3 linked regions of the Homo sapiens genome follow. The protein of the gene in region 3 purifies or fractionates together with the protein of the main gene of each other region. This does not show direct contact. Each region holds a gene or a part of one and is shown on either strand. Other genes may lie near its edges. The genes, in order: KAT14, KANSL3 and ZNF608.

Region 1 (3,651 bases), on a different chromosome or scaffold from region 3:
GCTCCTGGTGCTGCCGGCAATCCTTGGTGGTCTTGGCTAATTATATTTGCAAAGGGCCTATTTCCAGATAAGGCTGCATTCATAGGTACCAGGGTTGGGACTTCAACATATGCTTAAGGGGGACACAATTCAGTCCACAACAATGACCCAGAATGACTATTTAGCTTATCTTCTCCAGGAAACTTCATCTAATAGTGGCAATTTACTTACACAGCTAGATTTATGCTTGCTACTCAGTATTTTTTTAAACGAAAAGTATATCATTTAGAGACATACACATTTAAAAAGCAAAAGAATAATTAACACTGTAAGTCAAAGTGGCTTCCTCTGAGGGGAACAGAAAGTACACAGGAGACTTCTAAGGTGTTTACAACACTCTTTATCCAGGAGATGAATACATGGGCATTTATTTTACTAATATCTAAATTATACCATATTTCTATGCTGCCTTCTATCTGTATGACACATCTTACAATTTAAAAAATTAAGTATAGGCAGTAAACAGACAGGCCCACAAGAATAAGAACAAAGAACAGGTGAATATTGGCCAGGCGCAATGGCTCATGCCTGTAATCCCAGCACTTTGGGAGGCTGAGGCGATCACTCGAGCCCAGGAGTTTGAGATCAGTCTGGGCAAGATAGTAGGACCCTGTCTCTACTAAAAATAAAAATTAAAAAAAAAATTAGCTGAGTGTGGTAGTGTGTGCCTATAGTACCAGCTACTTGGGAAGCTGAGGTGGGAGAATTGCTTGAGCCTGAGAGTTCGGGGCTGCAATGAGCTGTGGTTGTGCCACTACATTCCAACCTGCGTGACAGAGAGAGACCATGTCTCAAAAAAAAAAAAAAAAAGAACAAGAACAAGTGAATAGATGACTAACAAAAGCATATGAACAAGCAGCAAATGACTTAACAGACCAAAGAAAGCCAATACCTAAGCCAGTGGTGAAGCTAAGCAGGGTGATTTACAAAACACAGCCTCAGGGAAGTGTAGTCACCTAAGGCATCAGGCTTAGAGCCTGGGGGGTATGACTATGGATTGTGAGGCTCTTTAAGAGGTTAAAGGCTCCAATTATACCCCTATAGTAATTATACTGCCCACATCTAGGAAATGATCTTTCCCTCCACGGGCAGAAGACTGGAGAGGCTCAAGAGGGAGATTCTGGACACAGGAAGCCAAGGGTGGGAGTACTGTACTGAAGACAGGGAGAGTCAGTTTACCTCCTAAACGATGGGCTCCTGGGCCCTCCCGACTTGGCTCCTGGTAGGCAGGCCAGTTAATACTGTGCTTCCCAGGAAAGATGGGAATTAGGAAAAAAAAGAAAAGAGGATCTATCTGGAGTAGGGATCTTGGTAAACTATAGCCCCCAGGCTAAATCCAGTCCACTGCCCATTTTAGTAGATAAAGTTTTACTGGAACACAGCCACACTCATTCACTACGGCTCTCCAATCACAACAGCAGAGTTGAAGAGTTCCGAATGAGATTTTGTGGCCGGCAAAGCCTAAAATAATTACTATCTGGCAGAAATACTTATTTCTTTACAGATAAAGTTTGCCAACTTTTAATCTACAGGGTCCAATATCCAAATAATGGGGAGTTCTAAAATGAGAGAACAGAAAAAATAGAAGATAGGAAATCAAGACTTTTCCATACTCAGGAAAGAAAGTTTCAAATTGAAAGGGCCCACACACCACATGTCCAGCACAAGGAAAGACATAAGCCCTACATACGGCACATCACTGAATAATACCAGAACACCAGCAATGAAGAGCAGATCCCACTAGCTTCCAGAGAAGAGAGAAAAACATGCAGACTCCAAACAGGCAATTCACAAAGAAACAACCAGGAAATTTAACCTCACCTGTAACCAAAGAAATATAAATAAAAAACAAGATTTCACTTTACAGCCAGCCAATTAGCAAAACTTAAAGGCTGGTTAGTGTCAAGTGCTAGCAAAGATAAAGGGAATAAGGCCTCTTGTTCCTCCCAGTGGGAGAGTATATACAGGTAGTTCTAAGTGGAATTAATTGTTCCCAGAAGCATCCACAAAATTTGGGTTCCACCGACCATCCTTTGAGCAACACTGATACCACACTGATCCCTTGGCTGCTATTTCTTCATGTTGTCCTTCGCAGATGTCTACACACCTTCAGATCCTCTGCAACACAGTGTCAGAGACACCGTCATGGCCTCAACAAATTTGTCAAAGCTACGACACAAACCATGCATATCTATCCTCAGAGAGAGAGAGACAAGAGAGACAGATGAAGAAAACTTATAGGTTATGTTTGAATGCCTAAAGGAAAAGAAAAACTCAGATGTATTCAGGTGTACTTACAATGAACAATTCTGAAAAATAAAGCCCAGCGATTTTTGTATTTTTTTCCCTTGCACTTTACTTTTCTCTTCCCAAATTACTCAGGATTTAAAAGGTCACAGCATAACCATGTCCAATGCCTAGTGCTGCCTGCCCCACCTCCACTCCTGCCCCCAAGGGCTTTACAGCAAGTGCTTGCATTCACCTGGTATCGGTCAAGGATTCTGAAGTCCTGACAGGTGGTTCTGTACGTGGCTTGTCCAGCTGGAAGTCTGGAAATTCCTCCTTCTTTGGCTCCATAAATCCCGTCAACTAACAAAAGAGCAGCATTAACAACTTGATCCAAGTCAAAAAGTGGTAATCCCCTATCCCTTTTCGCTTGTCTGACAATCAGTTTGCGTTTCAGTCTCCGAGCTTCCGGAGTCATGGCAACAGCACCGGGACAAGCTTCCAGCCTCTTGAGCAGCAGCTTTTCCTCGTAGATGCTCACGGGAGTATACCTGGGCTCTTTCGGCTTTGTGTCCTTCTCCAGCTGAGGCTTCCTCTTTTCTCTAGCCCTTGTTTGCAAAGATGTGTTTGAATCTGTGTCTTCACTGTCAATATCCATCCTGTCGGGTTTTTCCTCCTCACTCTCTACCTCCTGCTTTATCTGTTCAGGGCCTCTGACCTTCTTTCTGACCCCAACCACTGGCCCAGAAGCTACTGACCCAGCAGGGGGTGGGACGTACTCCATCCCTGGGTCTATGACTCCATCGCCTTCCATCTCATCGTCATCTGTGCAGAGTACAAAACAGTGTCATCAAGACATAGGAAGGAAGAAATGCAGAGCACACAGCCCACGGGGTGAAAACTTGTACATTTATACCATGGCCCATACCCAAAATAAAAGAGCAAAGCAAACAAACTCTTACCATGAAACAAGGCTTGTGGGGGCATCACATCTGGAATCAGATCTGCTTCTGAAAGCAAGCTAGGTGTGGCAGAATGAGAGGCAGGTGTACCAGGGGCAGAGAAATCCAGAGAAGGAGAAGGAGATGGGCTTGTCAGCGGGGTGCGGTCAGAGGAGCTCAAGGAGGAAAAGTCAATCACTTCGCCTTTTTCCAGAATCACATCTGGCCTGCGGCCTCGGCTTATGAATTTTACAGGGGTAGAAGATGTGCTCCTGTCAAGAAAGCCAGCGGCCTCCTTCTGGGCTCTTCTAATGTCTTTTGCTTCCTGAGTTCGAGACCTTTTCTCTTTTAATTCCATGGCAGATTCCACAGGATTCCGACTTGCTCGTTTTCTAAGTCCCTCAACAGTAATGATGGGATCTAAAGTTGGTTTTGAGGCTGCTAA
Region 2 (3,651 bases), on a different chromosome or scaffold from region 3:
GGCTCACACCTGTAATACCACCACTTTGGGAAGCCGAGGCAGGTGGATTGCTTGAACTCAGGAGTTCAAGACCAGCCTGGGCAACATGAGGAAACCCTGTCTCTACCAAAAATACAAAAATTAGCTGGGCATGTGGCACACACCTGTGATCCCAGCTACTAAGGAGGCTAAGGTGGGAGGACTGCTGGAACCCGGGAAGTCAAGGCTGCAGTGAGCCATGATTGCATCACTGCACTCCAGCCTGGGTGACAGAGCAAGACCTGGTCTCAAAAATAAATAAATAAATGACAAATACAGCCAGACACAGTGATTCACACCTGTAATCCCAGCACTTGGGAGGCTGAAGCAGGAGGATCACTTAAGCCCAGGAGTGAGCTGGTCTCAAAAAATAAATAAATAAATGACAAATATAGCCAGGCACAGTGATTCATACTTGTAATCCCAGTACTTTGGAAGGCTGAAGGAGGATTGTTTAAGCCCAGAAGTTCAAGACCAGTTTGGCAATATGGCAAAACCCCGTCTCTAAAACAAACACAAAAATTAGCCAGGCATGGTGGTATGCGCCTGCAGTCCCAGAAACTGAAGTGGGAGGATGGCTTGCTTGAGCCCAGGAGGTTGAGGCTACAGTCAGCTCTGATCATGCCACTGCACTCCAGTCTGGGTGACACGGCAAGACCCAGTCTCAAAAAAAAGGACAATATATTCCATAAGCAAGTTGATTTGGCTCAAGCTAATATTTTTAAAAGATCACTTTCAATTTTTGTTTAGTAGGCTACAGCTCAGGAGTGGAATTTAGAAGACCAGCTAGGCAGCCACTGCAGTTGACTGAGATGGGCCAGAAATCATGAGAGCTCGTTTAGGGACAAGAACAGTACAAATGGAGAAAAGTGGCTAACAAGTTGATTGCCTAGATACTGTTCAATACAGTAGGTATAAGCCACACACGACTACTTAAATTGAGGCAGGTGGATCACGAGGTCAGATCGAGACTATCCTGGCTAACATGGAGAAACCCCGTCTCTACTAAAAATACAAAAATTTAGCCAGCCATGGTAGCAGGCATCTGTAGTCCCAGCTACTCAGGACACTGAGGAAGGAGAACGGTGTGAACCCAGGAGGCGGAGCTTGCAGTGAGCCGAGATTGCGCCACTGCACTCCAGACTGGGAGACAGAGCGAGACTCCATCTCAAAAAAAAAAAAAAAAAAAAAATTACTGGGCACAAGGGCTCACAAGGGCTCAGGCTTGTAATCCCAGCACTTTGGGAGGCCAAGGTGGGCAGAACACTTGAGCCCACAAGTTCAACAGTGTGGGCAACATGGTGAAACCCCGTCTCTACTGAAAATACAGAAATTAGCTTGTGGTCCCAGCTACATGGGAGGCTGAGGTGGGAGATCAACTGAGCCTGGGAGGCGGACGTTGCAGTGAGCCAAAATTGCACCACTGTACTTCAGTCTGGGTGACAGAGACCTCGGCCCAAAAAAAAAAAATTTAAATAGAATTAAATATTCAGGCTGGGCGTAGTGGCTCGCGCCTGTAAACCCAACATTTTGGGAGGCCAAGGCGGGTGGATCACCTTAGGTCACGAGTTCGAGACCAGCTTGGCCAACATGGTAAAACCCCATCTCTACTTAAAAAAAACAAAAATTAGGGTGTGGTGGCACGTGCCTGTAGTCCCAGCTACTCAGGAGGCTGAGGCAGGAGAATGGCGTGAACCCGGGAGACGGAGGTTGCAGTGAGCCGAGATCACACCACTGCACCCCAGCCTGGGCAACAGAGCGAGACTCTGTCTCAAAAAAAAAAAAAAAGGCCGGACATGGTGGCTCATGCCGGTAATCCCAGCACTCTGGGAGGCAGAGGCATGCGGATTGCCTGAGCTCAGGAGTTTGCAACCAGCCTGGGCAACATGGTGAAACCTCGTCTCTACTAAACACAAAAAATTAGCTGGGTGTGGCAGCGTGCACCTATAGTCCCAGCTACTTGGGAGACTGCAGCAGGAGAATTGCTTGAATCCGGGAGGCGGAGGTTACCATGAGCCAAGATTGCACCACTGCACTCCAGCCTGGGTGACAGAGCAAGACTCCGTCTCAAAAAAATAAAAAAATAAAAAATTCAGTTCCGTAGTGACGTTAGCCACATTTCAAGCATTCAACAGATACACGTGGCGGCAGTTACCACACTGGACATCCCAGGTATAGAACATTCCTATTATTACAGAGAGTTCTGTTAAACAGTGCTGGTCTAGAGTTTTAAATTCATACAAACTTTCCCTTTCATTAGCAAGTCAACTGGTAGTTATTTAATATATACTGTAAAGTCTATGATTTCCTTTCTGTATGATTATCTAAGACAGATGACCTGGAATGCACATACCTTAGCTACTTAGCTCATTTTGTACAGAGCCTAGAACAGAAACAAATATAAATGAACATCTAAAGGTCTTTCATATTTTAAAATGAGATCTAGCTGGGCATAGTGGCTCACGCCTGTAATCCCAGCACTTTGGGAGGCCGAGGCAGGTGGATTGCTTAAAGTCATGAGTTCAAGACGAGCCTGACCAACATGGTGAAACTCCGTCTCTACTAAAAATATTAGCCAGGCATGGTGGCGGGTGCCTATAATCCCAGCTACTTGGGAGGCTGAGGCAGGAGAATTGCTTGAACCCAGGAGGCAGAGGTTGCAGTGAGCCAAGATTGCGCCATTGCGCTCCAGCCTGGGCAACAGAGACTCCGTCTCAAAAAAAAAAAAAAAGAAAGTAAGAAACAAATCCTAGTGCCCCAAGGGTCCTTCCCCACTTTATGATACATTGCACCAACTTTGTCACCCCAAATACTATGCCAAACAAACTGGTCTAGTGGCTACCTGCCAAACTTTATGTTAACTTTTTGACTTCAGTGACCTTACTGCATCCATTTCCAATGACTGAAATAATTACATCATTATGAAATGAAATGAAATCATGTGCAGCTAGATTTGGTGGTGGGCAAAAGAGCTGATTATCTTCTCCAGGCCAGACATTGAGCTAGTACTTGGATATGTGTAGCTAAAAGAGAACTCTTGATTTCACCATCACAAACCTATCCTCCTCCAGTCTTCCCTAACTCATGGCACCACCCAACTGCTCAAGCCAGAAATCTGTCATCCTAATTTTACCTTTCCCTTTAACCCTGGTTCTTGCTCTTCCTTCCAATTCACCATAGCAGATCCTATTAACCTATTCACTCTACCTATGAAATACATCTCAAAGTCATCTATATTTCTCCATTTGTACTGTTCCTGCCCTATACAAGATATCACGATTTCTGGCCCATCTCAGTCCATTGCAGTGGCAGCCTGCAGCTGGTCTTGTAAGTTCTACTCCTGCACTATAATATACTCAACAAAAAATCCAAAATGATCTTTTTAAAGTATAAATTGAATCTCTAGTTTAAGATCCTTCAGTGACTTCTTACCACTCTTAGAATCAAATTCCTTCACGAGGTAACCCTTGCCAACTTCTCCCTACCTCCCACTTATACCCCTACTGCTATTATATTCTGGCCACACTGGCCTAAAAGAGTTCTTACAGCATGCCAAATTCTCACTTTCAGGGTCTATATTTGGAGACAGAGATTATAAAAGGAAACAATTTTCTAAGTACCAAAAGAACCAAG
Region 3 (3,651 bases):
GGGGATGTGCAGTGCTGGGAAATAACCAGGATTAATGCTCACGGGGTTGCAGTGGGTCAGGATGTCTGAACCATGACAGAAGGTGCTAGTACATTTGTGGTTTCGTGGTGACCAATTTTCAGGTGTTCTCAAGCTGACTGACCCATGGGGCTCTGGGACAGCTGTTGAGGCCTGCCACCCAAACCTCCTCACCCTCCTCACAAACATTCAGCACTGAGCTCTGAGTTTTGGGGTACTTAATATAGGGAGTAAGACTGAAATCTAGGCATCTCTGACCCCATGTGAAAGAAATTTGGGCCCCAAATTCTATTAAAAAGATTAATGGGAAATGTGAATTCAGGGACCCAGTTTTTATTATCTTCAAAGAAGATGCTAGTAGAAATTTGAAAATGGAAAATAAATATTTCAGAGATAAGACTCAGAATCTCAGAGTTAGAAGAGAATTCAGCAGCCCCATTGTGGAAAGCCCTCGCCTTGGACTAAGAAATTAAGGGATCCTGGCCAGGCGCGGTGGCTCACGCCTGTAATCCCAGCACTTTGGGAGGCCAGGGTGGGCGGATCATGAGGTCAGGAGATCGAGACCATCTCGCTAACACGGTGAAACCCCATCTCTACTAAAAATACAAAAAATTAGCCGGGCATGGTGGCACGTGCCTGTAGTCCCAGCTACTCAGGAGGCTGACGCAGGAGAATCGCTTGAACGGAGGCGGAGGTTGCAGAGAGCCAAGATTGCACCACTGCACTCCAGCCTGGGTGACAGAGAGAGATTCCGTCTCAAAAAATTTAAAAAATTTAAAAAAAGAAATTAATGGACCTCATCAGAGTCACAGAGCAAGTTAGTGGCATGAAACACAAATCTGCAAAGCACCCATCCACAGTTCCTTTTACTATACACCATGACAAGAAAATACTGATAATGTACATTTTAGAGCTACATAGTAACTCCTGAGAATCTTAAGATATTTTTCAAGAGCAGAGGAAAAAACTAATATGGGTTTCTTTCCTGTGTCAGAAGTCTAACCAGATCAAGCCCAGACATGTATAATACAAGTCTCAGACTGCTCTCTCCCTGTTGGGGCCACGCTCCACAATCTTACTTGTTTAAATCTCGAGGTTGGGTCTACACCTGTCTGCTTCATAGAGTCCATGACAGACTTCATTTCTACAGCCTCCTTAATAAGCTGGTGGTTTTCCATCTGCTTAGCTTTGAAGCTGTCGGCCTGAAGCTGCTGCTGGTGATTGGAGAGAAGCTGCGATTTACCTGTCTCCTCAGTTTTATTAGGCACTGATGGCCCTAGTTTAGAATGGTTTTTGTTAGGCTCCGGAGTAGAGGGAGCTTTTGAGATTGTGGCCGATGGCATATTTTTCTGTTTAGTTTCCTCCTTGCCCAGCTCTTTCAAGGGGAGCTCACTTTTCCTTTCACAGTCTCCTCTCCCAGTCTGGGCCATTTTCTGCTCTGCCAGCCTCTGGTCCTCATAGTACTTCTCATACTGCTGTCTATAGGCAGGGCTGGTGGCCATCAGAGACTTCTGGTCCATATAGAGCCCATATGCATACTGGCCATAATAAAGTGACTGAGCCAGGGCAGGATGTCTTTGTGTGATCACCGACTGGTGCTGAGGCTGTAAGGATGCAGAATTGTGGTCCACTTTCTTAGAATCTAACTGCTCTGCCTTGTCTTTCTTTTCAGCATCTTCCTCAGACTCCTTCTTGATCTTCATTCCCTGCGTGCTCCCACTATTTCCAGCTGCAGGGGCACCGACCTGCCCAGGGTGCATGTAACTTGGAGAATAATAAGGATCATAGCTGTGGTAATAGGGAGAATGGGACTCTTTCAGTTGAGATGATTGTGCTGTAGTTGAAGAATGCCCTTTTACAACACTGTCCTTACTAGAAATAATATCTGATGGGGAACTGGCCTTTGATCTCATACCCTCCGACCTGCTGTCAGAACCACCATCGTCAGCAGCATCAGATATGTCTGAATAGGCCGGGCTGCTTGTCTTTGCAGCTGAACTCTCTGCCCCATTCTGGGTCAACACATGCAGAGGTGCCATTGGTGCCTGCCCGTTCACCAAAGTGCTGCATTCCAGCCTCGAGGCGCTCCCTATGGAAGGGCTGGGAGCGTTGTCTGTGAAAGTGTAAACCTTATCGGCCTCAGCTTTGATACTGGCCATGCGGCTCTCCTGAGACTCCGACAGTCCATTTGCCAGCCCTTCATTCTTGTTGAGATGATCCTTTAAAAAATGCCCAGGTAAATCTTTGCTGGCCCCCTTGGAGTCCTCTAGTTTCCCCAGCTTGGCATCCATTTTTGGGCTTCCCGTCTCTTTCCCTTCTTTGTCCTTTAGCTTTCGCTTCTCCTTTTTCTTTTTGTCTTTGAGTGACACCAGAGCTGGGTTCACGGTGATGGGCTCTCCCATAATTGTGGGCTTTGGTTGAATGGGTTTTAACGGAGGACTCTTTGGTGTAGCCTGAACAACAGTTGTTGTGAGGGAGGGCAGTCCGGGTATTGTCCCAGTGGTGGTCGTTGTAAAGGTTGCAGTGGGTATAGCGATTAGCTGCGGGGGAGTGGGGGCTGGGGCAGGGGCAATGGGCCGGGCACTTTTCAGTTTAGAGAGGTTTTTGTCCGTTTTGCAGTTGGTAGCTTTTTTGCCCTTTTCTTTATCTCCTAAATTTTTCTTGTCAATTAATCCTTCTGCTTCCAGTTTAGGCATCTCAGCAGCCAAACTGCCGTCTGCTGCCGAGCAACTGTCTAACGCAGCCGTCATGTTGGAGATTACTGGAAGGTTGTTCAGTTCATTGTTAAGGCCCTTCTTTTTGCCAGAATTCTTCCCAGCTTTAGCACCAATAATGGAACCTGGGCCATTGCTCATCAGCTCTCTCTTTCCCTTTGGGGTCCCAGGTGGGTTTCCAGCACCAGGGGATGCCGGTGCCTTCAACTGGTCATAAGCAGATACACTTGTGCTTGGCTCACTGCATTCAAGTGCCACATTACTCAATCCTTCCTCACAGTCCGAGATCTTGTCCTCACTGTCAGGCTCGAACTCCAGCTTGTTTTCTGGGTCTAAGTGTGCATGAGCCTGGTGGTACCTCAGGCCGTTAATGTGCTTGTACTTTTTGTTGCAGTTTGGGTGGGGACAGTCGATTAACACTGGAGAAGAGCAGCCTTGGTCCAAAAAAGTAGTCTCTGGTTTCCCTTGAGGGGTAGTGGGAGTGCTTCTGGAATTTGTGCGGACACGCTTTCCAGGCTTATTGTCCTCAGAGCTGGAGTTCAGGTCCAGCTCCATTGGAGGCTTGTTTTTCCTTTTGTTGGTGGAGGAAGGGCTGGCTTTGATATCCTCAGCAGCACAATTTGGGGGTGTCCTTCGTCCGCTGGCATTGAGGCTGCCCCGCCTCCCTTTCCCATTGGCCCCCCCTCTGTTCTTATTCTGCAGCCCTCTGGACTCTGTGAAGCTGGCCTCGGAGCCCGGGGCAGCAGCAGCAGACCTCGCTCTCTTCCCTCTGCCCCGGCCCCCTCTCATCTCCAGGTCACTTGTCGGTGACTCACAAAACCTATGGAAGCAAGTAACAGATGTGAAAATGAGCATCCCCAAAAGAGCCAGGTGAAATCACAAAGTACACAATGCAGTAAAGAGGAGTCAACACTCCAGT

What was found.
Region 1: the proteins of ZNF608 (region 3) and KAT14 purify together in Homo sapiens (affinity purification with mass spectrometry, with the first as the bait; one large-scale study listed by BioGRID). This does not show direct contact.
Region 2: the proteins of ZNF608 (region 3) and KANSL3 purify together in Homo sapiens (affinity purification with mass spectrometry, with the first as the bait; one large-scale study listed by BioGRID). This does not show direct contact.

What each region holds. Positions count from the first base shown.
Region 1 is NC_000020.11:18,161,816-18,165,466, reverse strand, and holds part of KAT14 (cysteine-rich protein 2-binding protein), read right to left. Parts: intron 3,648-3,651; coding exon of another isoform or gene 3,645-3,647; coding exon 3,228-3,644; intron 3,091-3,227; coding exon 2,522-3,090; intron 1-2,521. UniProt on the Homo sapiens protein: Component of the ATAC complex, a complex with histone acetyltransferase activity on histones H3 and H4. May function as a scaffold for the ATAC complex to promote ATAC complex stability. Has also weak histone acetyltransferase activity toward histone H4.
Region 2 is NC_000002.12:96,631,778-96,635,428, forward strand, and holds part of KANSL3 (KAT8 regulatory NSL complex subunit 3), read right to left. Parts: intron 1-3,651. UniProt on the Homo sapiens protein: Non-catalytic component of the NSL histone acetyltransferase complex, a multiprotein complex that mediates histone H4 acetylation at 'Lys-5'- and 'Lys-8' (H4K5ac and H4K8ac) at transcription start sites and promotes transcription initiation.
Region 3 is NC_000005.10:124,645,582-124,649,232, forward strand, and holds part of ZNF608 (zinc finger protein 608), read right to left. Parts: intron 3,553-3,651; coding exon 1,098-3,552; intron 1-1,097. UniProt on the Homo sapiens protein: Transcription factor, which represses ZNF609 transcription.